5 separate regions of the Homo sapiens genome follow, and regions 2, 3, 4 and 5 are each reported to be linked to region 1. The links are microRNA targets in miRTarBase. Many come from high-throughput screens and were not tested one by one. Region 1 holds a microRNA gene; each other region holds the end of a gene's coding sequence.

What was found. Region 1 holds the annotated microRNA hsa-miR-580-3p (UUGAGAAUGAUGAAUCAUUAGG, at 4,095-4,116, opposite strand). A microRNA usually pairs through its seed, bases 2 to 8, with sites in the 3' UTR of a target mRNA and lowers its output. Matches are read on the target gene's strand: a 7mer-m8 pairs with bases 2 to 8, a 7mer-A1 pairs with bases 2 to 7 and ends in A, and an 8mer does both.
Region 2: miRTarBase lists XRRA1 as a target of hsa-miR-580-3p. Seed matches in the 3' UTR shown: 8mer at 4,284-4,291.
Region 3: the mRNA of GUCD1 is a reported target of hsa-miR-580-3p. Seed matches in the 3' UTR shown: 7mer-A1 at 2,966-2,972, 8mer at 2,526-2,533, 8mer at 2,241-2,248 and 7mer-m8 at 2,226-2,232.
Region 4: miRTarBase lists AKAP5 as a target of hsa-miR-580-3p. Seed matches in the 3' UTR shown: 7mer-A1 at 4,063-4,069.
Region 5: miRTarBase lists PSMC1 as a target of hsa-miR-580-3p. Seed matches in the 3' UTR shown: 7mer-A1 at 1,637-1,643.

What each region holds. Positions count from the first base shown.
Region 1 is chr5:36,143,813-36,150,215 of GRCh38, forward strand. MIR580 (microRNA 580) reads right to left here and starts at 4,176; the gene lies at 4,080-4,176. All of the region lies in intron 1 of LMBRD2 (LMBR1 domain containing 2), which reads right to left.
Region 2 is chr11:74,838,096-74,844,498 of GRCh38, forward strand. It overlaps XRRA1 (X-ray radiation resistance associated 1), which reads right to left. Exons shown (of 19, transcript NM_001378157.1): 17 at 6,073-6,188; 18 at 5,759-5,864; 19 at 2,815-5,358. The coding sequence ends at 5,105. It overlaps RNF169 (ring finger protein 169), which reads left to right. Exons shown (of 6, transcript NM_001098638.2): 6 at 1-4,318. Among named protein-coding and RNA genes, the nearest start is that of RNF169, 92 kb to the left of the region's middle. RefSeq lists an enhancer at 5,758-6,403.
Region 3 is chr22:24,538,221-24,544,623 of GRCh38, forward strand. GUCD1 (guanylyl cyclase domain containing 1) reads right to left here. Exons shown (of 6, transcript NM_001284254.2): 5 at 5,622-5,863; 6 at 2,218-4,877. The coding sequence ends at 4,786. Among named protein-coding and RNA genes, the nearest start is that of GUCD1, 14 kb to the right of the region's middle.
Region 4 is chr14:64,466,523-64,472,925 of GRCh38, forward strand. AKAP5 (A-kinase anchoring protein 5) reads left to right here. Exons shown (of 2, transcript NM_004857.3): 2 at 1,610-6,403. The coding sequence starts at 1,873. The coding sequence ends at 3,156. It also overlaps a transcript of ZBTB25 not described here. Among named protein-coding and RNA genes, the nearest start is that of AKAP5, 4.2 kb to the left of the region's middle.
Region 5 is chr14:90,270,809-90,277,211 of GRCh38, forward strand. PSMC1 (proteasome 26S subunit, ATPase 1) reads left to right here. Exons shown (of 11, transcript NM_002802.3): 11 at 1,465-4,621. The coding sequence ends at 1,599. NRDE2 (NRDE-2, necessary for RNA interference, domain containing) reads right to left here. Exons shown (of 14, transcript NM_017970.4): 14 at 1-6,403. Among named protein-coding and RNA genes, the nearest start is that of PSMC1, 17 kb to the left of the region's middle.

The DNA.
Region 1 (6,403 bases):
ATACATTTTACTAAGATTATTCATCCTCTATAATTTAAGATTTTCTAAAAGAGAGGAAGGAAAAAACGGAAAGAGACCATTTAAAAGTAACCTTTTGTTTTTTGAAATAGTATTTTTCTTTTGTGTTAATTTCACCTAACAACTCAACTTTCATGAAATTCTTACTCACTGCTTTACAAAATATATTTATCACTTCCATTTATCTACATAAATCTTTAAACTTACTTTGATAAATTCTCATTTTTAATTTTTCTACTATTTTATATGCAGAAAATTTATCAATGACTATTAAAGTCATACATTTGAAAACATTCTTAATTTTATGATACAGTCATCAGCGAATAGTTTACTTGATATCTCTCTACTCAAAAAAGTTAGAGTATAGAGATTTAAAGTCTCTATTTTAAAATTGAAAAATTTGATATCTCTCTATACTTAAAAAAATTTACTAATCAAAGGCAATATGAACTTTTTCTCCTTTGTAAAATCAATGTTAGACTTTTGTTTATCTACATACTACAGTATTTCAAGGAATTGATTAATATCCTAACACAGAGAATCAAGAGTGTGATCAACCCAACAAAATAAAATAAGGGGCAGTGGCTCACACCTGTAATCCTAGCACTTCGGGAGGCTAAGGCAGGCGGATCACCTGAGGTCAGGAGTTCATGACCAGCCTGGGCCAACATGGTGAAACACCATCTCTACTAAAAATACAAAAATTAGCCAGGTGTGGTAGCGGGTGCCTGTAATCACAGCTACTCAGTAGGCTGAGGCAGGAGAATCGCTTGAACCTGGAAGGCAGAGGTTGCAGTAAGCCGATATCGTGCCATTACACTGAAGCCTGGGCAACAAGAGCAAAATTCTGTCTCAAAATAAATAAATAAATAACAAAATAAGGGAGAACCAATGAAATACTTCAAATCAACAAACATCTTTAACTAAAACTATTTAGAATAATAGAAAAGACAATTTAAGTACTTTAAATGGTTAAATTTAAATTTATATACAAAATACTCCTACATGAACTATCACATAGAAAAATCACATTTAATGAACAATTTTCTTCACTATTTTTTATATTGGTAAACAGTTTCCATTTCAACTGTCAATATTTTCATTTTTCTTAATTATCTAAAATTGAACTTCTTTCATCAATCTCTACCCTCTTATCCTGCTATATTTTCCTTCAATGCATTTATTCATCTGATATAATACACATTCTTTATATTTATTGTCTCTCCACACCTCTCCCCTTACCCCAGAGACTCTATGAGAGCAGAGACTTGACTATTTTATTCCATACTATATTCCAGTTGTCTGATGTAGTTAGTACCTGGCATACAGTAGTATCAAGAAATATTTGTTGAAATAATAAAAAATACTGTGTAGTTTAGTACATACACTATTTTTCTATTACTGACGACTTCAAAGGCAATGTAAAACTCGTGTAATGGTAAACTGATTTAACAAATACTTATTACAACTCAAAAGGCTTAAAACTCTGAACATTACCAAATACTACTCAAATTTTCAAATTTCATATTCTATGAAACAACTTATACCACAACAAAGTCAAATCTTATGTTTTAAAAAATAGACAAGGTTTTGCCATGTTGCCTGGGCTGGTCTCGAACTCCTGAGCTCAAGTGATCCACCTGCCTCAGCTCCCAAAGTGCTGCAATTACAGGCATGCGCCACAGCGCCCAGCCAAATCTTATTTTTAAGCTAAGCATAGATTAAGTAGTTGGCTGAAAGCTCAATGCAGAATGTGCTGATAACAAAACCATCTTCGAGATCTAGGGTTTTTTTTCTTTAAAAAAACCCAATTGATGTGAGTTTAAATATAACATAATTAACTGAAAATCCTTTTATGACTTGAACTAGACCTGAAATTGTCCAGTGCAAGGAATATGACAATCATACAAAAAAAAGACTAAATATTAGAGATTACCAAAGAAATGCTAAATAAAGCATGGCAGAGCCAAATGATGAAATATTATTGTAGTATAAGAAATAATGTTTGTTAAGATTATTTAATAACATCAGAAAATTACCCTAACAGCAATTGAAAATTTGGCACATATTTTTACATAAGCATAAAAAAGAGTAAGGTAACAATGAAATATATTAAAACATCAATAGTCTTTAGGTGGTAAGATTATGGGCATAATAAGCAAACAACAAAATCAGTTATAAACCTGACACTAGCTATTAATTTTTTTACTATGGCACTCTGTTTTTCAGTCTGATTCATAGTCAGCACTTTAAAGGGTTGTAGATGAAGAAATAGAATTATGGATCCTTTATTCTAGTAATAAATGATTTGGTTACATACCTTCCCACACTTCATGTGTTAGTATCTTACCACTGCTGTAACAAATTACTACAAACTTAGTGACTTTAAACAACATCCATTTAGTATTAATATCTTATAGCTTCTGTAGGTCAGAAGTTCAAACATAGCATAGTTCAACTTAGTTCTCTGCTTAGGGTCACACAAGTTTAAAATCAAGGTGTCAGCAGGTTTGCATCTTTCTCTGAAGAAGAATCCATTTCTAATCTCATTCAGGCTACTGGCAGGGTCTCACACTGTCGCCCAGGCCGGAGGGCAGTGGCATGATCATGGCTCAACATAACCTTGAGCTCCTGGGCTCAACTGATCCTCCCACCTCAGCTTCCAGATAGCTAGGACTATAGGTGCACACCACCACGCCTGGCTAATTTTAAAAAAAAATTTTTTTTGTAGAGACAGGGTCTTGCTATGTTGCCCAGGCTGGACTCAAATACCTGGCTGCAAGTGATCCTCTCACCTTGGCCTCCCAAAGCACTGAGATTTCAGGCATGATCCACCTAGCCAAGCCAAAACTCAGTTCTTTATGGTTATAGGACTGAGATCCCTGTTCCCCTGCAAACTGACAGCTGGCATTTAACCTTAGCTCTAGAGGCCTCTCCCCAGTCTTTGCATGTGGCTCTGTATATGTTTTTAAATTGTATATATTTAAAGTGCACAACAGTGATGTTTTGATATACTGTACATATACAGTGAAATAATCACCATAGTCAAACAAATTAACATATCTATCTCCTCACTCACTTCTCTCTCTGCGTGTGTGTGTGTGTGTGTGAGTGTGTGTGTGTGTGTGTGTGTGTGTGTGTGTGTGTGTGTCTGTGGTCCTGAATATTTTAGAAGCAGCAATGGCTTGTCAAATTCTTCTCACACTTGAAATTTGTTTTACAGGGCTTATCTGATTACACTGGGCCTGCCTGAATAATTTCATCATTTTTACTGGTTCCAGAGATAAGAGCATAGACATTCTTAGGGGTTTATTATTCTGTTTACCATACCATCTATTTCTGTTGAGGCCGAACTATATTGCCTTATTATGACACAGATTAGGACCAGTGATCCCATGAAACTGGAGATAAAAATTGGGGTTTTCCTAACTTGAGAAAATAATAGTTTCAAAGTCCATATCTTTAACCTTGTGCCAACATTCAAGTGATGAGTTGCAAGGTTTAGGGAAGAAGGAGAAGAAAGGGGATGATAATGATGATAATGATGATGATGGTGATACTAAAATGGGGAGGTAAATAAAAATTCAGTTCCATGTGATTAAGCACCACAGTAGCAAAACTTGATTATACTCGAAATCAAAATGGCAATTCATTAAAACTACCAGATTTTAGTGCCCGATGTGTGGGCATATCGTACCCTTCAAAACACCAGTTCTGAAAGTCTTAAACATTTAAAATCCAATTCAATCTTTTTCCAATCATCAAAATATTATTCAATATTACTTTCAAATGCCTTTATAATGGTTTCACAATTAGCGTGTTAATGTTACTGACTAATGTTACTGACTAAAGTACTGTTTCCTGAGTACTTTACGGCTGATAATAGTTTTTCAGGCCAAATACCCTTTGATGGAACTTCAGAGGTTAAGATAATTTTGTAGTTTGAAGAATTCCAAATGTTTTGAGAGAGAGAGAGAGAGAATGGGTACCAAGTGATCAGAACACAAACAAAACACTGACAACAATTTTGTCAAAACCAAAGATTCTGAAACTGAATGAAAAATTTCTGACCGGAACCTAATGATTCATCATTCTCAAATACTGTTAACTTAAATATCTGAGTCTGATGAATCATTAGGTTCCAATTGGAAATTTTATCTAACTTCACATATCTGTATTTTTACTCAGATATGTGCAAAATAATAAAAACCAGGAGACAACTCAAAATCCTAATTATGAAAAATCAAAAGAACCAGAATTAGAAGTGAATGATTAAGTCAACAATTTTCCACCAATAATTAAATTTAAATCTTCCAAACATAATCGTTATTCACATATTTAAAGATTTCAGGTATGAGAGAGTTCAGTTTAGGACACAGACTACTGCAAGAGACTATTACTCCCACTCGAAAAATGAAAAAAAAAAAAAAACCATCATAATATTTTTTAAAGGTACCTAAGAGCTGAGTTGGCGAACCAACCAGGTAACCTGAATTCCAAAATGTGACAAGCCCCTGAGGACAGTGGCATACTGTCCTGCTTTACCTTTTGCAAGGCATGAAGAGAAGAGGTAGCAATCATGTAAGCATATAAGAAAAAAGAACTAAAATTTTACTGAATTCTTAAAGATTTCATACATAGAAATTGCAAGACATTTTGATAGAGAATAATCTGTAAAGTCCTTCCTAATAATAAAATAATTTCAAAAAACGAATAGCTAACATTTAGAATGTGTTCACTAAATTTTAAGCATTGTATTAATACTAGTACCTGCCAAGCTTTATCAAATTAGACCTCACAACCTAGTAAGAAAGGGCTGTTCGTTTCCTTGCTTAACAGAAAAAAAACAGTGCAGAGAGGTTAAGTAACTTGTCCAAGTTAACAGAGCTGGTGAATGGTAAAGCTGGGATTCAAATAGAGGCATCTTTACTACAGAGCCTGGATCATAATTACATGTCTCTTCTCTAATCTAGACATAGTTTCTTAATGCAATTTAAATTGCTTAATGATTTATTTTGTTCAGTCTTCACAGGGAACAAATTAGAAACTTTCTCCCATTTCTTTTAGATATATCAGGACAGAATGCTTAGTCATGTTTAATAAAGAATTTAACGCAAACTTTTTACATTACAGATTATACTACTATTACTTGATTTAAGGGTAATATATGACTGTACTCTACATGGGAAAAGTGGAAAACATAGAGTAAATTAGAATCCGTTTGTTCTTGCCCCAAGCTGCCTATCTTAGAGCATTAAATTACAATGAATTAAAGATCTACTTAGTTCCAAGCACCATTCATTCATTTAGCAAATATTTACTGAACGCCTACTATATGGTGAGCTCTGTTCAAGGGGCTGGAGATAGAAAAATCCAAGCAAAGTCCCTGCCCTTAAAAAGTCTAGTGGGAAGAAACAGGCAATTAAAAAAAATACATTAGGGGGTGATAAGGGTTATGTAAACAGGTAGCTGCCACCACCACAGAGACTATCAGTTCTGGAAATACATTATTCAAGATTAGTTTGGCTACACATAACAGAAAAGTCCAATATAGTACAGACTTATACAATGCAGAATTTATTTCTCGTGTAAGTCTTGAGATAGGTGGTTATGGCAAGTTAGCAGATTATCAGAGGCCCAGGCCCCTTCTATAGTCCACATCCTTAGCAGGTGGCTTTAATCCTTATGTTCCAGGACAGATGCTGGAACTCCAGGAATCCTATCATCATCTAGACAGCAGGATGGAGAAACAAAGAAGGGTGGACCGTCTTCCTTTTAAAGAGATGTAAGAATCGGCTGGGCACGGAGGCTCACGCCTGTAATCTCAGCACTTTAGGAGGCTGAGGTGGGTGGATCATCTGAGGTCGGGAGTTCGAGACCAGCCTGACCAACATGCAGAAACCCCGTCTCCACTAAAAATACAAAATTAGCCAGGCGTGGTGGCGCATGCCTGTAATCCCAGCTACTCAGGAAGGCTGAGGCAGGGGAATTGCTTGAACATGGGAGGTGGAGGTTATGGTGAGCCGAGATTGCGCCATTGCACTCCAGCCTGGGCAATAAGAGTGAAATTTCTTCTCAAAAAATAAAAATAAAATTAATCAGAAAAAATAAGATACATCAGTAGCAATCACAATGCAGTTCTTTATGACCAGATAGCAACCTCTATGTACCTACTAATCTCGTCTTCAATGGACACAATTCCTTACGTTAAAAAGAATCTAATGTACCAATTTAAACTTGCATTTATTATATTAAGGCAATAGTCATGATTAGAAGGAAGGCAAAAAAAAATTATTCCCATATTAGGAAGATGAAGTATGTCTGTTACCGGGGCAAACTATCAAACTGAATTTCAAAACTGACAGGCTCTCCCTGAAGTCCTAGA
Region 2 (6,403 bases), not on the chromosome of region 1:
TGGTGAAAGCATTTCTGGAACTGTCTTCAAAGACTAGAAACACTGACTCCCAAAATGCTAGAACTGGAAGGGACCTTAATGGTTATCTATTCCAGCCTCCTCCTAAGGTCCTCCTCAGCTTCTAGACCTAGAAGCCAAAGTCCAGAACAGTGACCCATTGATCAAGGCAGATAGTATAACTCCTTTTAAGTGTTCTCAGATTTGCCTTTTCTCAGGGCAAATCTTCAGTGTTTTGTGGTTATTTGTGGTTGAGAGAGAGAGAGAATGTAATGTCTGAGACTAGCCAGCAGCTATTTGAAGCCTCTGGGAAAGAAGGTGGCTTATCAAGTGGGTTTGTAGTAATGAGTGCTGCTGTAAAGCAGAGCCATTTTCTTGTGCAGCTCATAGTTCCCAAACAGTTCCCAAACAGAAATTCCAGAGATGTCTTAAACATTGTGGTCATCATTGAGATAGGTGGAATCTCTTTGGTGACTACGTTGGTGGGGAACATCACTCACCTGAATGTATGCATTCTGTGTTCTCTGTGTGTGTGCACATATGCAGATGTATGTTTTAAAAACATTTACCAAACTCATGATTTTGTAGTCACACCACTTCAGTTCTGGGCCCTACCAACAATTTATGTCCTCCAAGAGCTGCTGGAGGGCATGTTTGTGCCCAAAACAGAAGAGCTGGCTCTGGTTTACAGAAGACAGGGAGGGTGACCTTACTATAAATGCCCTTAGAGGAAACTTATCAGTTACTGCCATTTCACGCATTTCCTTTTTGATCTTAGTAAATATTATTGGAAGGCTAGTCTTGTTGGTAGGAGCAAAGACACTTATTTTTCCACTTGCCATCTTTCTCTATATCTCCAGTAATTTGAAAAACACTTTTCAGTTGGAATTGATTTTTGTCTTTGGTAAAAAGAAATATTTTTAATAGATAAAAGATATATATTTTAAATATTTCCCCAAATTAATACTTTCATTTTAAGAATTGCATAGCAGTTGTAACAAGTGCAGAATGAAGAACAAATTCTTGTTAAGCAAATAGTCCAAACTCTAGGTCCAGCTTACTGCCTTCCCCCCTTGTACCTACAGTGATGCCTAGGATGGTATTGACAGTTGTTTTCTAAACTTCCTGCTGAGCAACAGTCCTTCAAATATAGGTAGAGTGGTCTAGGTTAAGGAGGGAGGAGGGTTGATCTTTAATCAGGTTGGCTTTGGAGGAAGGAAAAACCACTAAGGTATTATCTGAATTTTAAGATGCTTCCCATCCTTAATAACTAAAACCTGAATGCTTTTCTTTCTGAAAAATCTCCCTCTCTCCTTCCATGATTCTGAAGTTGGTTAAAAGTCGATATGTTGATGTGTATTATTTGGGGGAACAGAAAAGGACAAGGAAGGAAACAGAACGATGGGAAGGGTTTGTGAGCTAGAATAAGAGGTGCAGGATTTCACAAAACAAATTCCTCACAAATCATTGAAGCCCAGTTCACCATACAAATTACCCATGTCTTACTCTGTTCCTTGTATATATGCATTCTGGGTTTTTTTATTATTAAAGGGGAAGTTAGGGGGGAGGGTGAAGGTCAGTCTGAGGGGAAATCCAGGAAATGTGGTGCCCTTAGAAGGGGGCTGTCAGCTCTTTTCCATAGAGAGGGAAAGAAACTTTGAGAAAATGTTCTTGACCCATTGATTGTATCTGCTGGAAGAAGTCATCTGGGCCTGTTGGGTTGGTATCAGATCAGGGGATTATGCATCCAGCCCCTGGCCCCTTTAATCTATTTGCCTCTTTTTAAAAAAGGTTAAGTCTTCTTGGGTGAGGCTTGCCAGGGAAACTCCTAAGTGGCTTCACTTATTTTTTAAATTTTAATTTAATTTTTAAATTTTTGCTTGGAAGCAGCACTGGTAATAAATGTTTTATTTTTTGTTCATTTTCCCTAAAGGAAAAATGTCCTTAAGAGATTAAAGCTCTTAATTGATTACTGTCTGGTTACAAACTGGCAAACTGACTAAAATGGGAAGCTGCCACCGTGCCTGACTCATGTAGCTGATGACCGAAGGCTCATCCTTTCTTTTCTATTTGACAGACATTTACTGAGCTTCAGACTTGAGCCAACCCTGAGCTGGACTGTGGAGATAAAGCAGTTCCTGCTCTTGAGGAGCTCAATGTCTAATGGAATGCATTTGAATGTATGTGTGGCTGGAGAGTTCATTTATGGTCTTAGGAAAGCCATTTCTGGTCCCATTTAGAAAACTGACCAGCACCCAGCAAGCTGCATTCTACATTTTAGAGACCCCATTGGTATTTGTGAATTTGATTGCACCACCGCTTTTCCTTTACTAAGTAATGTTATGGAAGGAGAATGAATTTTCTCCTCTAGTGATTACAGGACATTAACATCTCTTCAGAAGCTGCTTTTAGCTTAAGCCCCAAGAAGTGAGGTGGGTTGTGGATCACTGACATGGTCAGGGGAGGCCCACACCTCAATTCAGTAACCACCTAATCTCTCCCCCAACCTGATCTCTCATCAGAGCTGGCAGCAACTTGGGATTCCTTTCCTTTTTCCTGCCTAACTTTTCATTGAAATGTCTAGTAGGAGAGTGAGAAAAGAGAACAAAGGCTGGGTCACAGTCATAGAATGTTACAGCTGGAATGGGCATGGAAATCATCCAAGTTAAACTTCTTCTCTGCCCCCCGCCCCCACTTTTTTTTTTTTTTTTTTTTAACCAAACGAACTTGTGATCCAGTGCCCTATTTTATAGTGTGGTTTTCCAGGGTCTGAATAAATAATCATTAAAGTTTGACACACGCAGACACACGCACCAATGATGGGGATACCCCCAAATGATTTAGGAGGTTATTTTATTTTAATAGTTTTTTCTTCCTGATTTTTTTCAGTTAGTTAGAGTTAAATGTACCTATAGCCCCTGAATACATGCTCAGGTAGAGAAAGTCTCCATAGTATAAGTAAGTAATATGAATGTGGAATCTTGGAAAGTGATATATTTTGATTGGAATAATTTTAATTAAATTTAATGATTTTAATTAAGAATTAAAAGCCAGCTAGCCAAATTTTCTTTAAAAATTGGAAACTCATTATGGTCTTAAATTGTCCTCAGGCAGCCTTTTCCTCATCAACCCATAGAGTGGTCTTTTGAACTGGTATCTAAACATACCTGGTTATGAATTCTCAAAAGAGAAAGCAGGTCTGGGGCGGGGTGGTCAGGAGACAGATTCTAGGGAAAGTGCTGAAGAGATTTTCTTCTGAAGATGATCTAGGAAATGCATCTTTATACATGATTGTTAGCTGCTGTAGCTTTCTGAAGAAGATTGTAGAAAAGAGACTAAGATATATGCAAGGGTCACCAGTTTAGAGATCAGTCAAATTGGAAAAAGTGCCAAGACTGGATGTGCAGATTGTTCTATGTATTATCAGTATTTTTTTCCTCTTAAGAAAAAAATTTACTCTCTCTCCTTTGTGAGTAAATGCCTCCTTAATGCCTTTTAAGTAAGGTGGCAACTTTTAACTGTCATCTTGTGAGAGGCAACCTCAAACTCTAAGCAGACTCCCTCTCTCCCTTTCTGGTGTCTTAAATCAAGAACTAGTTTGAAGCCAAGGCAAAGCAAGGTTTGTTCATCTTCCTTTCCTGTCATTTAAGGTAAAACAGGCAATGAACTCGCTCTTCAAATACCATAGTTCAAGAGTAGCTGTTGGCCCTGGTTCCAGATTAATATAGCAGCAGGCAGATTGCCCCTTCTTGGGGCCACCACCCTCCAAAGCTGTGCCACCAATGAGAGCATTGGGTTCAAGTTTGCATCAAACATGGTATTACCAACGCTGAGCCTCCAGCAGAGCACTTAAAAGTCCTAGTGAGAGAATAGATACTATGCAAGGGAAAAAAATTTAAATGCCAACGAATAGTTTTTTTTTTTTTGAACCTGATACACTGTTTGTTTACTCTCAACTCTTTGTACAAATATTATTGTCCTAAGGGCCTTTTCCCCTCCTGCCTAGAAAATAGGTTGTGTATTGGTTTTATTCAACCTGCTGTCTGCTTTAGGATTGGAGAAGGTACCTGGATCCTTGTGGACTGCCACTGCTGGCTGCCTCCTCTCCAACTCATCAGAAGAGCATTTTGACAAAGACAGAGGACTTGGACCAGGGCATGCCCTGTTGGGGATGTTTCTGTCAGCAAGGACATGGCATGGAATCAAGTGGGCTGATGTGTTGTTATTTAAACAGTACCAAAGTGCATTCTTCAATGTATGTTTGCCTGCTTGAAGCAAGGCCCAAGTTGAGAATACAGTAAAGGAAACTCATGAAAGTGGATGTTCTGTTTATAGTCAGAGTCTTGTCTCTGGTGAACAATCTCAGACAAAAACATGGGTTAAGCTTAGGCTGTGTGTGGATTTTTGGTGCTGTATGTGCTCTGGGAGATGCCCCATGTTGGATGTCTTGCTTTGGCATTCAGAATGGCAGTAGAGATTAGGAGCAGGGATGGGGTTTCCATGGTGTACAACTACGTCTTTTGGCATAAGTTATGTCCAGTTTACAGTTTGCTCCAATTTACTGTCATGTTCACATTCAACCATTCATGCTCCTAATGAAGGAACCAAGAAAGAGTCTGAGTAAAGAACGAATATACAGGATGACACTGTCCCTGCACATTAGGGCTGTACTCACAAGATCTGGTTTTTAAAAATACCCTTTTTTGGAGCCATTGTTCAGGAATTTGTTAAGATCCCCTTGGTGTCAGTTTCTCATACAACAGAGAACAAATGTATCCCTGTTGCATCTGAACTGGAAAACCATTTTTAGAGGGAAGTGTGACAATGCTGCTGTGGCCTGGGTTCCAAGAAAGAATGCATGTGGCACCCAGTCTATTGCCCTGTGCACCCACTCTTTATTGCCGCTGGGCCAGGCACCAGGTCATGCCTGGGCCAAGGAGGGGAGATCCTGACAAGGGGATGCCACCTTGTGGCCAGCAAGTGGGGCCCAGCTGAGCTCTGAGGCCTGTGGCCGGCTGGTCAACCTTGAGGTGCGGTCCAGGGCACAGAGCCCTCGGGGAGAGCTGGGGCACAGGCCGGGTGGTGCACACAGCCCCCATGCACAGCTCTAGCCTTGTGAGTCACTGGCTGTGGGCTCCTGGCAGAACTCATCCATGAACTCGAGGAAGTGGCCGAACTTGGGCTGGCTCTCACTCAGCGCTGGGCAGGCCATGGGGAGCGGGGTAGTCCCGAACACTGTGCGCAGAGAGCCACTCACCAGCTGCCGGTAACGTGCCTGGAACTCCTTCAACAGCCTCTTGGCCTCCAGGTACTGCTTGTGGTTCACCAGCCGCCGTTCTGTCCACTGGTGCAGGACAGCACCTGCAGGAAAAGAAGCCAGGAGAGGCACCAAGCTCATCCTGGTTCTCACCTAGCCAGAAGCAAGAGGATTGGGTCCAGAGACCCTTGGAAAATGGGATGGTGTGGCAGGAGGATGCTAAGGGGCTAAAAATGGCCTTTCCAGCTTGGGAAGTCACTGACTTCCTACTGCCCCTATGCATTGACTCTATCTTAAGCCCTGGTTCAGGACCTTAACATGCTGTGTGATTTTAGGCAACTCCCTGCCTCACGCTGGCTCTCCTTTTGTCCATCTACATGTAGAGACTGATGTAGGCAGTTGCTCTCTAAGGGCCTTTCCTGCACTGACACAAGCCCTTTCTTTGCCTTTAGCCAGCAGGCGTGAACTGGATCTGGGATCCTGGCAGCTGTGGCAGAGCCGTACCTAGTGGAGCCTCTGTAATGTTCCGGGGATCCCGCAAGCGAATGAAGATGTCATCCAGAAGTTGGGCTCTAGTCTTCTTTGGGGGTGGAATCGGGATTCTCTGGGCCTGGCAGAAGGTCATGGAGGAGGGTGTTATCCCAGGTTTATGCACAGACTTCCCTGGCCTAACTTCATACAGTCACAGCAACAGGCTGGGGGGCATCTGGGGGTGCTGGGAAAGCATGGCCCTCAGAGGGTCCCAAGGTGACAGCCACATCTGTAATTGTGGGCGGTACTCAGGGGCCATTTACACATTCAGTGAGCTGGATGTTTACCCGTTTCTCTTTGTGAACATAGGGTTTCTGAAGAGTGTCCAGCTTGGGCTTGGAGGAGTGGCACAGGAGTGGGTGCTTCAGCATTTGTTGCAGGGCTTGTGCATTCTTCTGGATTCCTAGGGCAAGAAGGCAAGACTGAGTCAAGGCACTTCCCCCTCCTCCTCCCAGATGCCTCCCCTGATTGCTTCATTCCTCAGTCTCACAGCAGCTCTAGGTAAAAGGATTTGAGAGTCCCCAAAAGAAAACACTGCCCCCAGGTTTCTTCCGGATCTGTTCCAGTGCCTGAAGTTCCATCATTCTTCAGTGAGTATTTGTCCCATATTATAATGGA
Region 3 (6,403 bases), not on the chromosome of region 1:
CTGTTTATTTCAGCTTTGGGGATCCCTTGACTCCATAGCCACATTGCTTTCTGGTTGAGGCCCCAGGGATTTTGTTCTTCGCTGACTCAGACTAGACGTAAAGCCAGAGTGCCAGAATTTTCTTGCACTGATTCTCCATCCAGGGGGATTGGAGGCCAGGGGACACCTGCACTTGCAGAAACCTGTCATGAGGGGAATCCTAAGTTTAAATAACATGAAGCCTTTTTTTTAAAAAAGTGTTTTTCGTTTTTTTTTGTTTGTTTGTTTGTTTTAAGTGAAAAGGTCTCACTCTGTTACCTAGGCTGGAGTGCAGTCGTTTAATCATGGCTCACTGCAGCCTCGACCTCCCGGGCTCAAGCATCTTCACACCTCAGCTTCCCGAGTAGCTGGGACCACAGGTGTGCACCACCATGCCTGGCTAATTTTTTGTATTTTTGGTGGAGATGAGCTTTCACCATGTTGCCCAGACTAGGCTCAAACTTCTGAGCTCAAGTGATCTGCCTACCAAGGTTGGGATTACCTTCCAAGGTTGGGATTACAGGTGTTAGTCACCATGCCTGGCCATTTTTTGTTTGTTTGAGACAGGGTCTTGTCCTGTTGCCCAGGCTGGAGTACAGTGGCACAATCACAGCTCACTGCAGCCTTGACCTCCTGGGCTCAGGAGGTCCTGTCACCTCAGCTTCCTGAACAGCTGGGACCACAGGCACGTGCCACCATGCCCGGCTAATTTTTTGTAGAGGCAAGATTTTGCCATGCTGCCCAGGCTAGTCTCAAACTCCTGGGCTCAAATGATCCACCTACCTCAGCCTCTCAAAGTGCTAGGATTACAGGCATGAGCCACTGTGCCCGGCCCCACACAAGTCTTGAACTTCTAGCCTCAAGTGATCCTCCAGCCTTTGCTTCCCAAAGTGCTAGGATTACCGGCGTGAACCACTACACCTGGTCACTTGAAGCTTTTCTAATGGGCAGTACATCTTGCTCCTTCCACCATTCCTTGTAGGAGAGAGTGTCTCCTGAATCCTGGGTGACATCAAAGGATTCAAGTTCTGCCTCCCCTTTATTATTATTATTAATTTTTTGAGACAGAGTTTTGCTCTTGTTGCCCAGGCTGGAGTGCAATGATGTGATCTCAGCTCACCACAACCTCCACCTCCCGGGTTCAAGCAATTCTCCTGCCTCAGCCTCCTGAGTAGCTGGGATTACAGGCATGTGCCACCATGCCCAGCTAATTTTGTATTTTTAGTAGAGATAGGGTTTCTCCATGTTGGTCAGGCTGGTCACGAACTCCCAACCTCAGGTGATCTGCCCGCCTTGGCCTCCCAAAGTGCTGGGATTACAGGCATGAGCCACCGTGCCCGGCCTTCTGCCTCCCCTTTAATGATTACTTTTAGTTCTGAAAAGTACAGGAAAGCTGCTGAAACAGGTATTGTTTTAGCCTACTATCCGTTCACTCACATTTACTGAACATCTACTAGGTGTCAGATACTGGGGCTATAGCAGTGGAGACAGACAAGATGATGTGTTTGAGGGAGGATGGGAAGGAACAGAAGTGCTTCTTTAAAAGTGATGACATTGGCCAGGCACAGTGGCTCATGCCTGTAATCCCAGCACTTTGGGAGACTGAGGCAGGCAGATCACTTGAGGCTGGGAGTTCGAGAGCAGCCTGGCCAACATCATGGTAAAACCTGTGTCTACTAAGAATACAAAAATTAGCCGGGCGTGGTCGTGTGTGCCTGTAATCCCAGCTACTCAGGAGACTGAGGCAGGAGAATTGCTTCAACCCAGGAGGTGGAGGTTGGAGTGAGCCGAGATCGCACTACTGCACTCTTGGTCTGTCTACCTCAACCCCAACTCTGCATGCTCTGAGCAGCCAGCTCCACCCAGCACTCACCATCCCACCCACTTTCGTCTCTCCTGCTTCAACATCTCCCTCATTCTGTTGTGTCTCCTGTAGTTGCATTTGTTGCAGTTCACTTGAGCTGAGCCCCGAGGCCCTTCTACCTCTAGTACTGCCTGTCCAGGACAGGCACAAGCATCCAGGCCTGAACGGGATGGATATGGCCCTAGAAAACAGAAAACAGGATTCCAGTCCCAGCTAAACTGGGTATGGCAAGACAAGGACCTGGGTTCCCATGTGCTCATGCTGAGAACTTGAGAAGGGACAGGAATTCTGCAGATCAACACAGCTTCATAAAGGCCAGCCAGGGGCTACCACCATTTTGCAGTGAGAATAATGTTTATTGAGAATGGCTCATTACAAACAAAATATATATAAAATCTCTGCAATGCAAAAGATCCCTTTCATCCCCGTGGCTAGAATGAACAAAGCCCAACTGTCCCACATGGCTTCAGGTGCTGTGCTGGTCCCCAGCATGTGAACAGGCTGGGCAGCTGTCGGTGTCATGTGCTGTGGGCAAAAGTCCCTGATGTCCAGGCTCTCTGGCTCCATTTTCATGACTTGTGCAAGAATGCAACACAGTGTGTCTTACATCCTGCCTCTGTGACCCTCCCTAGGCAGATGAGTCTTGAGAATGGGCAGCTTTCTCATTCATCTTTCAGGAAGGTGACCTTTAACTTGTGGCATGCCCTGAGAAGCCATCCTCTGGGACCAGAGACTGAGTGTTTCTAAACATTTTGGCTGGACTGAGGTGCTGTTACCACCCTCCATGAAGGCCACTCCCTAGTGACAGCCCTAACAGCATGTGCACTGTCTAAATCACATCCCACCATCCTGAAAACTTCATTTCCTCCCACTGGTTTCCTTCATACAGCTATTCTAACAATTTTACCAGAACACCACCTGAAGATGCCCACACCCCACAGCTGCTGTGCATGGGTACTCCTGGGCCACCTGGCATTAAGGCAATGGAGATGAGACCAGTCTAGAGCCAACACCGGTCTCTGAAACCCAGAAGGGCTGCCCAACTAACAGCACCTCCCTCTTGGCCAAAGGCTTTGTCTAGGGTTGAGAAGCAATTTGGCTGGGTGGTCTCACTGCCCTCCTAAACAGAGCCCACCTCTGCCCCCAGAGTCATCTGTGCTCCAAAGCAATGGGCGGGGGCACAGCTGCCACCATGCCATGCCTTGGGCATTGGAAGAGCAGGACCCAGGAGTGCAGGGATGGTATCACTGTTGCCCCTTTGAAAATGACCCATTTCCCACTTTGGGAGGCCGAGGCAGGTGGATCACCTGAGCTCAGGGGTTCGAGACCAGCCTGGCCAACATGGCGAAGCCTGGTCTCTACTAAAAATACAAAAAAATTAGCCGGGCATGGTGGCATGTGCCTGTAGTCCCAGCTAGTGGGGGGCTGAGGCAGGAGGATCGCTTGAACCCAGGAGGCGGAGGTTGTAGTAAGCCAAGATCGTGCCACTGCACTCCAGTCTGGGCAACAGAGTGAGTCTCCGTCTCAAAAAAAAAAAAAAAAATCCATTTCCTTTAGTTTTTTAGGTGCAGACTGGGGTTCAAGACCCAGCTCCACCACTGTCCTGAGCAGACTCCCAAGACTGGGCCAGCTGCCTCGTCAGCTGCCTCGTCTGAGAGGTGAAGGGGCAGGTACTTAAACCACTGGCCAAGTCCCTTTCTCTGAAAAAGAACTTGAGCTGGCTAACTGCCCTGTGCAGAGGTGTTAGTGGTTCCAAAGTACCTTCACTCTTGCTATTACTGTTTTACTTGAAGGTGATTACCCCTCAAAAATGAAAACTTAAATCTCAAAGAAACAACCCCTGACCCCAACCTCCCCAAAAAAGAGGAAGGAAAGAGCTCTATGCTACTTGCTGTGTTGTAAGATCCTGGGCAGGAACCCCTCTTCTCCATCAAGATAGACAAGACCCAGTATCCTGTGCAATCTGGTGTGAAGACCAGGTTGGGTGGGCAGCTGCAGGCTGCCCCAGCCCGTTGCTTTGGAGCACAGGCCTTAGCAGCCAACCTTAAAGGACTAGGGGCTCCCCACACTCAAGAGGGCAGACCCTGCTGTCAGGATTTTGGCTGGTGTCAGGAGGCCTCCTGGGTGCAGGGATCCCTCTGGGGCTAGGGCAGCTGTTTATTCCCAGAGCACTGCTGCCAGCCACGAGGCCTACCAGTGGGATCTAGGCCCGAGAGCCCTCCATCTGACAGAGCTGGAGGACCTGGAGGGCTGTGGGGGCTTTAAGAGTCTCCAGCGGCCAGGGCTCTGCATGGCAGGGCAGCTGTGAGGTGTGTCTATGCTGGGTGGCAGGGGTCAGATGCCCTGTAATGAGCCACAGAAACTTGGGCCCATGGGTAGGCAGGTGGTGGTGGTATCATCAACCACTGGGCACAGGGGCATATGCAGCACTTCCAGGAGAGAGGGGCCTGGAGGGGTCCTCAGCCCTGGGGGATTGGGGTCAGCTATGCTGTCTCCAGACACTCACATACTGTCCTGACAAGTGGCATCCGTCAAGCAACTTCTCTCTCCAGGCTCAGTCCTGCGGTCTGTGGGGAGACCATTGCCATGGATCTGGCTCAAAGGCAACAAGGGCACTGTCGGGACTGGACTTCCTGTGGGCGCAGCTGGAGTCAAGGCTTGGGGTCTTGGGGTATGCTTCCAGCAGCCAGCAGGTGCTTGGGGTGAGTGACATGACAACACACGGCACTGGCAGACAAAGCAGCTGTGCCAGTCTCCGAGTTCCTGGGACTCTGCCAGATGGGCTGAGGCTGCAGTTCCACATTCCAACCCCAGCAGCCCCAAGCCTGGGCCAGGGCATCCTGAGCGGGCCCGGCTGGGGTGGGGATGGGGTCCGAGGGCCTAGGCGCACCAGGCTCCTGCTGTCAGCTGTCCAAGTAGACAAAGAGGATGTCCTCATCTGTGCCATAGCTGGTTCTGGCCTCCTCAAAGTTACTGATGCTGGTGCTGCACATTCCTGCTGGGGGTGGGGAAGGCAGAACGGGGTCAGTGGGTTGTGAGAGAGCACCTACACCACCGACACAGTGCCCAGGGGAGCTGAGTGAGGTCTGTTTCCCATCCACATGGCCATTCCTCTCAACTCAAGTCCTCCACCCCCAGGAAGCCCTCCTTGCCCATCCTGGTCTTCATGAGGTTTCTCTGACTCCTCCCCAGTAAAGCAGTTGGAGAAAGGCCCAGAGAGGGGCAGAAACGTGCTCCAGGCCACATAGACGGGGTAAGTCTATGTGGTCAGGGCGTCCAGGGGCTGTCTATGTGAATCCAGTCTATGAGAGTCAGGGCAGCCCTTCCCTGTGCCCGGAGGGCAGTAGGCAGGCCAGGATGGGTCTAGAGCAGGGGCTGGGTCTGGCCGGGCTTTTCTTTCTGAGGAATGTGCCGGCCATCCTGGTGGTTGGGGGAGGGGTGCAGCCTGGGCAGCATGAAAGGGTAAGGCAGGGACCTGGGCAGTGGCGTGGGGCCTGTGGTGTGAGAGGGAGGGGTGGCCAGGGTGTAGAGGAGGCTGGCACAGTTTGCGGCAGGTTTGCCTGCATGGCCTGAGGGGTGGCCACAGTGACAAGAGCCCAGGAGGAGCAGGGGCTTTGGGGAAAAGGTAGGGAGGGAGGCCCTGGCCACACTAGATTGAATGGGTGGGAACTGTGGGCACTGGGCATACAGAACAGTGAATGTGGACCACTCTGCCTCACCCACCCCACCCAGCACTCACGGTCGGCATAGGCTGGGTTGTTGTAGAAGATGCAGCCAGTGGCCCGGTTGTAGCCACGCAGCACGATGAAGTGGCCCTGGTAGTCAGGAGTGCGGCAGAAGCAGTGGTGGCCACTGGGGGTGAAGCAGCAGTACTTGACAGGGCTGGAGCACAGGTCACAGTGCAGCACCCCCGAGTTCACCAGCACGATGGCCACATGGCCCTGAGCCAGGTGCGCCTGGATGTCCTTCACACTCACTGTGCTGTGGGCGGGAGGGGGGTCAGCTGGTGCTGCTGGGCCCCCATTCCCCATCCCTCAAATGGATCCCTGCTTGTGCCTGTTTCTCTGTTACAAAGCTTGGGGATCGGCTCCTTTTCCCTTTGCCCTGAACTCCCTGCTCTGTCACTGTGGCCCAGGCTCAGCCTAGAGCCAAGCAGGAGACCGGTGGGGGGGGTGTGTGTGTGTGTCTGAATGTGCACAAAGATGAGCTGGCTCTGTCAGGCCCTTCACGGGGAGAGCATTCAGCTCCAGGTGGGTCCAGTCAAGGGCCACTAGAGCAGCACACAGAAACCATCCTCCTACTGCACCCCAGCCTGGTTAGTGAATTCTTTTTGCCCAGCCCTGTCTCTCCTCTACCCTAAATCATGTGTGGTTTACATTGAAAACTGCCAGCCAAGCATGGCTCAGACACTTTCAAAACCAAATGCTTCTCTGAAAGAGCTATTTTACTTTTTTTCTAAGGCTCCTGGTGGCAGAAGGGGCTGCCCAGGAAGGGCTGGGCCACATTGCTTCCAGGGGAGCT
Region 4 (6,403 bases), not on the chromosome of region 1:
TTATCAGCTTAGGTTCTAGTGCTCACTGAAACATTGTGAGGAGAAACACTGTCAAATGTTCATATTTTAGTTCCGTCATTGTTCTAGAATGACTTTATCTTTCTGTTAGAGGCACACAGTATGAAACACCCAACCTAAGATAATATTTACTTAGATCATAAACTGATTTTCAGGGTTCCAGTTCCTTCTACAGTTCATAAAATTATGGGTTACCCAAATGAAACTTCAGTGAAGGATTTACATAAAAACAATATAAAGAATGAGTCCCTTTGCTTATTTTAGGGCATCCACCCACTAAAATTCATAGGATCTTTGTTGGATAATCACCTCCCATTTCCATTCTTTGGTGCCATCATACCATTCTAAGGATTAAATTTTCAATACACCTTTATATTATCTAAGTTTGCCAATTGCATAGTTTGCCAACTTATTTTTGGCTTTTAAATTAGTTCCTGAACCAAAAAAATAAAATATAAAGAATTTCAAAAGCTTGGTTTTCAAATGACAAGAACTCAGTCTACTCGTGGTTCAATTATGAGTTGATAAGTGCCTTATGGTTAAATGACCATTAATCAATTTTTTAATTTTTTTACTAATGAAACACTGCAGATTAGTATCCCCAAACAATTCATTTTCTGACGAAACTCTTAAAGCCCAGTTTCAGAACATAAGCTTTAAGCAACAAGCAATCTTGTGTTAATCTGAGCTCTGTTACAGCTCTGCCGTAATCTCAGCCAAATTGCTTCATCTGTACGTGGTGATACCACCATCTTTGTAATATTGTGGTGAGGATTAGAGATGTATGTAAAAGTGCATGCACTGCCTAATACCCAAGAATTGCTCAATAAATGTCAGCTATTACTACTCTTACTGACTTCCAACTATGTGCAGATTATGGTGGAAACATGTGATACAGCAGATACAGTACTTAAATGAAAATGTCAAAATTGTACAACTAATTTAAGAGTGGGAAATGACAGTAATGCTAAATTTTCCTAAGAATATGTATGAAAAATAGCACTTCCTTGATGGAACATACATTTTTAGAACAGAAACCTTATGTTATAATGGTAAAACTAGAGAGTCAAAGTCTCTAGTTCTAACTCTGGCTATGACCTTATCTAGTTGCATGGCTTTTGACAAGACAACTGCTCCCCTCTGGAGTTCAGTTTTGTCATCTGGCTGGATTTGAGTAATCTCAAATAATCTCTAAAGTCCTTTGCAGCTTTAAAATTATCTATTGAGTGTGATAAAGATTACATCAGCTTGCTTTTCATCCTGCACTTCATTTTTGGTTCTTGTTGTTTGCTTAACTTGCACTTTAGAGTCATAAGCAATTCACACAGACAACACAACTAAAGAACTGATAATATCAGACTTGCAGGGTAATCCAAAATGAAGTTTCAACAAGGAGGATAAAACAAAATAGAATCACACTGAACTCTTTAATAGGGCCAAAGTAAACCCCAATGTTTATTCTCCAGTCATTTCATTAAGTTATTATATGGAAAATATGCCTGGTAGAATCTTATACATTCACTGAAATAGTCTCCACAGAAAATAATAGGCTCATAGTGAAATAAAATACCACTTTCTTTTCTCTCATCAGGTTGATCTTTAAATAAAGCAAAAATTTATCCAAAGAAGGGCTTTCATCAAGAAATTAAAGAGAGAAATTACAAGCCATAGAGAAACTGGGCATTTCTATACTAGAGAAACCACCTAAAACAACTGTATGGAGTAAGATGAAAGGTATGAATATGCCTGGAAGAAATTTTACCTAGTGTGACATTTTTGCTCATCTTTTTGTCACAAAAGGCTGCTAAGGAAGAGAGAATACAGTTTTCTAGAGAATAAGAGTGCAGTGTAAAAATGGAAACCACAATTTCAGAAATTCATGTAGAAAACAAGGATGAGAAGAGATCAGCAGAAGGTAGTCCTGGGGCTGAAAGGCAGAAGGAAAAGGCATCCATGCTTTGCTTCAAGAGAAGAAAGAAAGCAGCCAAAGCACTGAAGCCCAAAGCTGGCTCTGAAGCTGCTGATGTGGCAAGGAAGTGTCCACAAGAAGCAGGAGCTTCTGATCAGCCAGAGCCCACACGGGGGGCCTGGGCCTCACTCAAACGTCTTGTAACACGCAGGAAAAGGTCAGAGTCTTCAAAGCAGCAAAAGCCATTGGAGGGTGAAATGCAACCTGCAATAAATGCTGAGGATGCTGATCTTTCTAAGAAAAAGGCAAAATCTAGACTTAAGATTCCCTGCATAAAATTCCCAAGAGGGCCAAAAAGGAGTAATCATTCCAAAATTATAGAAGACTCAGACTGCAGCATCAAAGTCCAGGAAGAAGCTGAAATTTTGGATATACAAACACAGACCCCATTGAATGATCAGGCAACAAAGGCTAAGTCAACCCAGGATCTAAGTGAAGGCATCTCACGGAAAGATGGTGATGAGGTCTGTGAATCAAATGTGAGCAATAGCACAACTTCTGGAGAGAAAGTGATTTCAGTAGAACTTGGATTAGATAATGGGCATTCTGCTATTCAAACGGGAACTCTAATCCTTGAAGAAATTGAAACGATCAAGGAAAAACAAGATGTTCAACCCCAGCAAGCAAGCCCACTTGAAACTTCAGAAACAGACCATCAGCAGCCAGTACTTTCTGATGTTCCTCCTTTACCTGCAATTCCAGATCAACAAATTGTGGAAGAAGCCAGTAACAGTACCCTAGAAAGTGCACCAAATGGAAAAGACTATGAAAGTACAGAGATTGTAGCTGAAGAAACTAAGCCAAAAGATACTGAATTGAGCCAAGAATCAGATTTTAAAGAAAATGGGATCACTGAAGAGAAATCCAAATCAGAAGAAAGCAAAAGAATGGAGCCAATTGCTATTATTATTACAGACACTGAAATCAGTGAATTTGATGTTACAAAATCTAAAAATGTCCCTAAGCAATTCTTAATTTCAGCTGAAAATGAGCAAGTAGGGGTTTTTGCTAATGATAATGGTTTTGAGGATAGAACTTCAGAACAATATGAAACACTCTTAATTGAAACAGCCTCTTCTCTAGTCAAGAATGCTATTCAGTTGTCAATAGAACAGCTGGTTAATGAAATGGCCTCTGATGATAATAAAATAAACAATCTTCTACAGTGACTTACTCTCCAGAGTCACGGCAGAAAAAACAAGCTTAATGAAGAATTCTTTTATACATTTGTGGCATTTCTTACTCAGTAACAAATGAGAGATTTATCATCTCTAGAACTTAAAAGGTACAATTCCAGCGCAGAAGTGCTAAAGATTAAGTCAAGTTTATAAAACTCTACCACTGAAATGCAGTCACTTCTGGATTGGAGGAAGTCAGCACAGATTGCAGTGTAAAATGACATAACATACAGGGAGTTGCTAAAATGGCATATGGAGATTGGAGTGCTTTGGGGGAGGAAGGTGTATTTATTGAGCACTTATGGTATGCCATAAGCTTTTTAATGACCTCTGATATAACAAAGTCTGGTTTCCTTTTGATAATTCAGCTCTGTGTATAGGCTAACATCACATTAAGTTTTTAAAAACTTATTTTTTACAGTGCACATATATGTTTAAAATGGTGAATAAGGTGAGCTACTTTTGTGAATGTGATTTGTAATTGTTACATTCCTAAGCAGCAGGCTTAACTCAAAAAATACATTGCATTTTCCCAATTTCAGCAGATAGTGTGCAGAATATGCATATTGATATTAAACGTGAGTGGTTTCCTAGTCTTAAGTCTCTTATAAGCGCTATTTGGCCAGGGGCAGTGGCTCACGCCTATAATCCCAGCACTTTGGGAGGCCAAGGCGGGTGGATCAGCTAAGGTCAGGAGTTCGAGACCAGCCTGGCCAATGTGGTGAAACCCCATCTCTACTGAAAATACAAAAATTAGCTGGGCGTGGTGGTGCACGCCTGTAATCCCAGCTACTTGGGAGGCTGAGGCAGGAGAATTGCTTGAACCCGAGAGGTGGAGGTTGCAGGGAGCCAAGATTGCACCACTGCACTCCAGTCTGGGCAACAGAGCGAGACTCCTTCTCAAAAAAAAAAAAAAAAAAAAAGAGAACCATTCACAAATCCTTCAATCAGGCAAATTGTTACTAAGTGCAAAAGTGTAGAAACAGGGAGAGTGGGTTTTTCCCCCGCTTTTCTTTCTGCCTCAACAGATCTGTATATATCCATTTCTGCATGGATTTATCTGTGAAAAGTTAAAAAATGAAACAGCAAAAACAAAACAAGGGGAATATTATTCTTCATCCAGGAGAAGGGAAAATTCCCAAGTAAATTATCACAGATAATATAGGATTCATCTTGCAGAATTACTTCTTTAAGAGCCATATTCATCAACTTCTCTCCAAAGAGGGGAGAGTAGATTCAAAGCCAGCCTGGTAGTAATGGTCCTGGAAAATCCTAATAATCTAGTGCAAATATTTATTCTCGGCCAAAAATGAGCCATGAATGTGGGTGAATAGAAAAGTGAAAAGTTATTGCTAAAGCACATTATAATTTAAATGTCAGTATTCCTTCATGTCTGTGTGTTGAGACCAGTAAAAAGCATTTTACATGAATATTGAAAGTTAACTTTTTCATCACTATTTTCTTTTCTTTTTTTTTTTTTTTTGAGATGGAGTCTCACTCTGTCGCCCAGGCTGGAGTGCAGTGGCGCGATCTTGGCTCACTGCAAGCTCCACCTCCTGGGTTCACACCATTCTTCTGCCTCAGCCTCCCAAGTAGCTGGGACTACAGGCGCCCACTACAACGCTCGGCTAATTTTTTGTATTTTTAGTAGAGATGGGGTTTCACCGTGTTAGCCAGGATGGTCTTGATCTCCTGACCTCATGATCCTCCCGCCTCGGCCTCCTAAAGTGCTGGGATTACAGGCATGAGCCACCGCACCCGGCCTTCATCACTATTTTCAATCCAGATATACTTTACAAAAATGAGAAGGGCTTATTTGCATTTTTATTTACATATTGAAAGGGAAGCATCTGATCTCATCAATGATTGCCATATTTTTTGAAAAAGTAATCCTATTTCAATCTTTCCTTGTGTGAAATGGCCATAATACCAGAGTGCACTTCCCTACCTCACAGGTTAGGATTCAAAGTGTGTATTCCCCCATTGTGTAAATTGAGTGATTGTGTTACTACTTGAAACAGATGAAGTAATAAAGATGAAGTATGAGATGTAAGGTATTTGTTCAAGAGCTCCACTTGGAGGAAATAATGCACATTAGATGATTTTAAATGATCTGGGTGAATTCTTGCATTGTGTATGGATTGCATATAGAAAGTATTTGCTACTTTGTCCTACAGAATCATCTTCATTTCTTTCTGTAAATACATATTGAGACCTCTAACAAAAGAAACTAATCTGACTTGGAAATTGAACCAAATCATGGATATTATTAGCAAGATTCTTTGCTGAAGTGCAAAAATATTTCCCCCAGATTTTCCTACCTTCATGCTTATAATCCGGGGAGGAGGGTGGAAATCCTGAGCAAGATGAAAAGTGTCATTCAAAACACATGACCCAAGAAGTCAATTTCTTTTAATTGTACAACTTTTAAACATTAAAAACAAAAAAGACGAGTCATCTTCTCTGAAAACACTCTTTAACTCACTATATGTGGTGCTAATGGACTTGGACAGCTACCAGCTATCATATTTAAAAGTGAACCATTTTAAAAACCTGACTAAGGTTGGTGCATTTTACAGTGTATTGAAGAATCCTGCCCTCATTTACTGCAAGGATGCCTCCAAGCCAATACACTTGCATTGTAAATGTTTAGTAATCTCATGAACAAGCAAAAAGTATAGTACTTAGCAGTTATTGGAAATATTTTGGGGGATTTTTAAAAAAACAGATAAATGGTAAATATGTGCAATGAATTTTTTGGTTAAGAAAGTAAAATTTTATCTAATACTAGGTTTTTACTTTTTTCACTGTGGTTTGATATATATTTTTGGTTAGAATGTACTGATTGTTTTTATGATAAGATGTATATTTTACTTGCATTCATTCTTAAGAGGTTTCTGTTTTTCTATTGAGAATATCTGTTGAATTAAGTAGGATTTCAGTTAGAAAAAGGAATTCCGAAATTAACTGGTCTCAATCTGATTATATGTGCTACATGGCCAAATCCTATTACAGTGAATTCTAAGGTGATTCAAATTGTTTTATTGTTATAGAAATATGCAGAAATCAGATGGCTTCAGAGTCATAAAATATTTTTCTTGTAATAGTATTTAAGCAATTTGACCTTATATGCAAACGTTAAGTGAATATAAATAAGTTCTGTTTCAATTCATGTCCATTTAACAACATTAAAATAATTATTAGGAACACCACATGAATTTTCTTTACATTTGCTGTG
Region 5 (6,403 bases), not on the chromosome of region 1:
CCTCCCAGCTGACCAGAATTTACAGCAAGGTCTGGCAGCGTTGAATATGGGTTCTACCTGCTTTTCCTGGAAAGAGCTGGGTTTTCGTTGGGCATAAATGCCATGGTTAGGTAGGGACAGCACAAGCAGTGCCTTTCCAGGCCAGCACCTGCCCTGAGCCCACGGATCATTGGCAGTTAGTCCTAGAGAACTAGATGTCTCTGTTGGCAAGTAAAATCTATCTTCTTTTTTAAAAATTGAAAGATCTTAAAATTTTAAGATAAGAACTTACTTTGACAATTTTCAAGCCTTCAAAAAAGTTGCAACAATAGCACAGTGATTTGCCAAGAGTTAACATTTTACCTGTTTGCTTTTTCTCTTTCTATACACAAAACTTTCTTTTCACCCGAACCATTTGAAGTAAATAACCTGATGGCCATCACCAAACAAACTTCTGTGCCAGGATTGTGTTTTTTGCCACATCTTGTTTTTGCCACAGTAATTACTGGCCAAAAGAAAAAGAAAACAATAACAGTAACCCACATAATATGTTTGTTTGCTGTCCTTCTCTATCTATTTCCTTCATTTCTCTTTCCTTTCTAAACAGATCAGGCCTAAAACAATAACAGTAACCCATGTAACATGGGTTATTGTTTTCTTTTACTTTGGGCCAGTAATTACTGAGAAATTAAATATATTGGAATAAATGCTATACTCTGTAGTATTATTCCATAGTATAGATACTGCCACTTACAGTATCTAACCAGAATACATGTTCTTTTATGACTATAAGTAAATGAAATAGACATATACTGTCAATTGCCTCTAAGTTTCAGGGCATAATTTTGTTTATTTCCTAGGAATATTATTCTCTTTAACAAAAGTGGTGTTGTACAAGCCACATAGCTTGTTAGAACCTGAGCCAAAACTAGAACCCACAGCCCTGACCCTTGGGTCAGTCTTAGTTACAGTAACTCCCAGTTTAAGCCACTTCACATCCTTTCAGAAAATAGGATGCTTAAAACATTTTTTTTAAAAATCAAATCTTTCCCAAATAAGCAATTTGTGTTTAGTCTAGGTGTCTCATGCTTTATTTCAGAACAGATTTTTTTTTTTTTTTTTTTGAGGTAGAGTTTCGCTCGTTGCTCAGGCTAGAGTGCAGTGGCGCGATCTCGGCTCACTGTAACCTCTGCCTCCCGGGTTCAAGCAATTCTCCTGCCTCAGCCTCCCGAGTAGCTAGGATTACAGGTGCCTGCCACCGTCCCTGGCTAACTTTTTGTATTTTTAGTAGAGATGGGGTTTCACCGTGTTGGCCAGGCTGGTCTTGAACTCCTGACCTTAGGCGATCCACCTGCCTCGGCCTCCCAGAGTGCTGGGATTACAGGTGTGAGCCACCGCGCCTGGCCTCAGAATAGGTTTTTTGGAATTCCTTGTTAGAATAAAAATGAGTATGTCACTTTCTGAACACACTCTTCTTTCTTACAGGCAATCTGTACAGAAGCTGGTCTGATGGCCTTAAGAGAACGTAGAATGAAAGTAACAAATGAAGACTTCAAAAAATCTAAAGAAAATGTTCTTTATAAGAAACAGGAAGGCACCCCTGAGGGGCTGTATCTCTAATGAACCATGGCTGTCATCAGGAAAATGGTTGGGAGATTTCTCAATCCCTGAAAGGGATGAGGTTGGGGGAGTTGCCCAGAGGAATCCCTGTTCCCACTGATTTTTATTAGCAAAACATCCTGTGTCTTTTGGAGTACGATGTGTAAGTGCCCATTGGGTGGCCTGTTGGTCACTGTGCAGCAGTCTGCTTCCCAATAAAGCGTGCTCTTTCACAAACACTTCCTGTTTCTGCAGTCTCCACACACACCTACCGCTCAACAGCAGCCTGTGGGTGGACCCAGCTACAGGGAAGCCTTTGGACAGGAACTCAGGCTGCGGTCCCAAGGAGTGTGGACCTCACTATGCGTTCGCCACATCACACCCCCAGAGCTGGCGTTCAACGGTAATTACAGTGGGAAATGGTCACTACCACAGAGCCAGGGATATTCGTTGTTTAAATAATAAAGGCTGCGTTAATGTGGCTATTGCTTCCAAAGGAAGTACAGCTTTCCTTTTTGGAAGTTTTGTGGACCATGCATGTTCTTAGCACTCTGAGGGCAGAAAATAACTACTGGTGTTCCCAAGAGACTGAGGATTCCTAGAGATATCTTGAAAGCCCTTCTGAGCCCTTGGGCTCAGAAATCTCATCCCTTTCAAGGTGTTCAGAAACATGTCAGAACTTCCCCTTCCCTTTCTCCGTCTATTTCCGTCATTTCTCTTTCTGAACAAATCAGGCCTAAAGCTATTAAGTGGGACAGATCAAGGTAAGCGTTCCCTTGACAGGTGGCCTGGTGTGGGTTGTAGGGCCCACACTGAATGAGGAGTGTGTATTAGTTTTCTGTTAATACTATAACAAGTTACCACAGGCTTTGTTTAAAAACAGCACAATTTGGCCAGGCACGGTGGCTCACGCCTGTAATCCCAGCACTTTGGGAAGCTGAGGCAGGCGGATCACAAGGTCAGAAGTTTGAGGCCAGCCTGGCCAACATGGTGAAACCCCATCTTTACTAAAAATACAAAAATTAGCTGTGCGTGGTGGCAGGTGCCTGTAGTCCCAGCTACTCAGGAGGCTGAGGCAGGACAATCGCTTGAACCCAGGAGGCGGAGGTTGCAGTGAGCCAAGATCCCGTCACTGCACTCCAGCCTGGGCGACAGAGCAAGACTCCGTCTCAAAAATAAATAAATAAATAAATAAAAACCACAATTTTATCTCAGTTCTGTAGGTCAGAAGTCCAACACGAGTGTCTCCAGGCTAAAGTCTTGCTGTTGGCAGGACCGTTCCCTCTGGCGTCTCTAAGGGAGAATCCGTTTCCTTGCTGAGGATTATTGTTGGCAGAATTTAATTTCTTGGAGTTGTGGGCCAGCTGAGGTCAGCATTTCCTTGCTGGCTGCCAGCTGAGGCCTTTGCCAGTCTGTGAAGGCCACCCTCCCTCCTGACTCGTGGCACTTCATTTTCCACCAGCAGCAGCAGGCCCAGTCCCTCTCTCCCACCGACCCTTCTTTCTGCCTGCCTTTTCTATTCTTATGGATCCTTGTGATTGCATTGGACCCATGCAGATGATCCAGGATAATTTCCCTGTTTTAAAGTTTACAATCTTCTTAATTTTTATCTGCAAAGTTCCTTTTGCCATGTAACATTCACACGTTCCAGGGCTTAGGGTGTGGCCATCTTTAGGGGCGCCACTCTGCCTACCACAGAGGACATCCACACGTGGGGGTGGCCCAGTGCAGGGTAAGGACGGGGTGCTTGTGGGGAGGGCGGGTGTCAGCCCAAGTAGGGTGTGGAGCTGTCCATGTGGAGGAACACCACAGCACGGGGACTCAGCATGGGCAGGGTGAGGCTGGCATCCGTGTGGGGTGTATGTGCAGGGCTGGGGTGGTCCGATAGGGGGAGTCAGTGTGGGCAGCCTGATGTGCAGTATGAGAGCCCAAGTGGGTGAGGAAGGCATCTGCAGGGACGGGGTGGTGGCAGGGGAGGGAGGCTGCTTATGTATGGAGGCAGTCAGGCAGGTAAACAGGACAGTGGGAGCCAGGTTTCTCTGAGGAGTTAGACACAGAAAGAAGAAAACAAGAACGACCTCTGTCCACTGGGAGCACCTGGGAACAGTGACACCCCAACTGCAGTGAGCACCCCTAGACCCAGACCTTTGCTGCTAAAAGTATTATTCTCCACTAAAAGGAGTGAGGGCTGATTCCGGGGCTAGGCAGGGAAAGGACAGGATGAACCCAAAGTCTGTTTTGCCAGAAAGCAAGGGAGTGCTCAAGGAATGATAAGGACATGTCCTAAGGACACCGAAGCCTATGTGAAGGGGCTTCCACTGGCCAAACTCGGGACAATCTGAGCATCCTAACAAACAGTTACTATTAATGGAATACAGTATAGCCCTTTAAATAGGGAACTACACACACACACACACACACACACACACACACACACACACACACACACACACCCCAATACATATGAATTGATCTGAAAGTTTGCTGAGGAAGGGGTATTTACAGATTTTGAGAGTCTGCCACAAAACACTGTTCAGTTAGAAAGGGAAAGTCACACTGGAGATGCCCAGCAGACACCGTCTTCACCAAGTGGTCAAATGCACATCATCAGTAATGGGCACTTTGAAAGTACGTGCCACCCAAGAGTGTCAGTGCTGTCACACTCCTGCCAAAGATGCTTAGCCTGAATCCAGTGCTGAGGAAACACCAGGCAAACACAAACTGAGGAACATTCTACAAATTCAGAACACTTCAAAAGTATCCACGTCTTGGAAGTCAAAAAGCTTCCAATCAGAAGGAGACCAAAGAGATGACAACCAAGTGCAGCTCCTGCTCCTGAACTGGATCCTTTTCCTAGAGGACATGACTGGGCCTGAGGACCTGCTAGGAGTACTGCGTCCATGCTGACTTCCTGTTCAGTGTCTGTATCGTGGGCGGGTAGCAGACTCTCAGCAACTGACTCACACGGTTCAGGAAACAAAATTCTTTGTAACGCACTTGCATCTTTTCCTAAGTTTGAGATTAAAAAAAACAAAAAACCCCAGCACATCAGTATTGCCTTTTCCTCATTGGTAATAGCTGAGCGTTTTCCTCTAGAGGGACAGTCTCCCTCATGTCAATTCTACAAAAGCAGCTAAAGCAAATGCCAGGGCCTAGAGTGTCAGGGTAGCGGGCTGAACTGCGCCCCACCCCAGCTGCTTCTCCAGTTTGCTTACTGACCAAAATGCTGAAATTACCGTTTCGGCAGCTGGTCACTGAGGCCTGCGGTGCCAAGTGCAGGGATGCAGGTATGAAGTGCTTGTGAAATAACAGAATTCCCACAGTAATTTCTTCCCTGGCTTCCTGCACTGGTGAGCCGGACAGGGAGAACCCCGTCTGCCTGCGGAAAACCCACTGGCTCTTTGGAGCCCTTCCTCAGTAGAACAATTTAAGGTGAACTCTCCCATCACTCCCTCTGCAGCAAGCCTATCTTCACTTTTCCAATGCAAAATGATATGTGTGCCTTACAAGTAGTAGCTGCCTCCTCCTACTGGGAACACAGCACAGAGGTGCCTCCTGGCCTCCTGCAGGCCCAGCAATCCTGTGCCAGAGGCATTGCCACTGCTTCATTCCAGGAAAGAACACTGTCCCAAACCCGAGGTGGGCCGACCCCTGTGGTCTGATGTGATCAGTGACTCCTTCGGGGAAATGACGAGCGTTCCTGATGAAACACATGAGCCACTGTTTGACTCCAGCTGGGAACCCCCTTCTCAGCCCTCCAAGCTGACGGTTAGTCTTGGGAGGCACGTAGTCATCTTTCAGAAGTTCATGTCAGCAATCTCAAACGGGCTGTTTTTTTTTTTTTTTTTTCGAGACGGAGTCTTGCTGTGTCGCCCAGGCTGGAGTGCAGTGGCGCGATCTTGGCTCACTGCAAGCTCTGCCTCCCAGGTTCACGCCATTCTCCTGCCTTAGCCTTCCGAGTAGCTGGGACTACAGGCGCCAGCCACCACGCCCGGCTAATTTTTTGTATTTTTAGTAGAGACGGGGGTTTCACCATGTTAGCCAGGATGGTCTCGATCTCCTGACCTCGTGATCCGTCCGCCTCGGCCTCCCAAAGTGCTGGGATTACAGACGTGAGCCACCGCGCCTGGCCTCAAATGGGCTTTTAAATAACAACAGTGATGCTCTTGACATCTTGTTTTCTGTAAAATGCCCTCAAGGAATCTTTGATTTGTTTTAAACCTCCTCCCATGCAGCAAGTAATGTGCTCGCAATCTGTTCGAGCAGCCGCTTTATCCTCTCGGGGGCTCACTGCCCACTGCTAAGAGCCATTCCTGGCTCTCAAGGGACAGGTTGCCACTGGGGTTTGGAGGGAACCAGCTGATCAGAGGCCACGCCCTTCTAAGTTCTGAACCAGATGAGAAGAGACATGAGTCAGATGGGGACTGAGGCGCCAGCTGCTGTCATGGGGAGCATGGTTTGGTCCTGGACTTCCTACTCCCTGCCCCCAATCAGGTCGGTGACATGTCTGGCTGATGTCTGCCCCACGCAGAGGACAAGGGTGGAGAAGGTCCCTCTTTGTGGGCAGCCAGGAACTCATGACAGTTCAAGCCAGTTAGCTCTCAGGGAGGGGGAGCAAGTCCACCTCGGAGTGGAGCTCTCAACTTCCTCAAGTTGAGGGTTGTTTCTGTGAAAAGGCATCAAGGGGAGCAGCTGACGACCTGTCTGTCGCTAAGGAACACCCGGTGGGCTTCTGCCTACAGCCACCTGTAGCTCAGGGACTGGGGACGAGCAGGAGAGGGCAGTAGTGGGGCTGGGCTGGCCAGTTTCCCACCGTGCCCTGGGA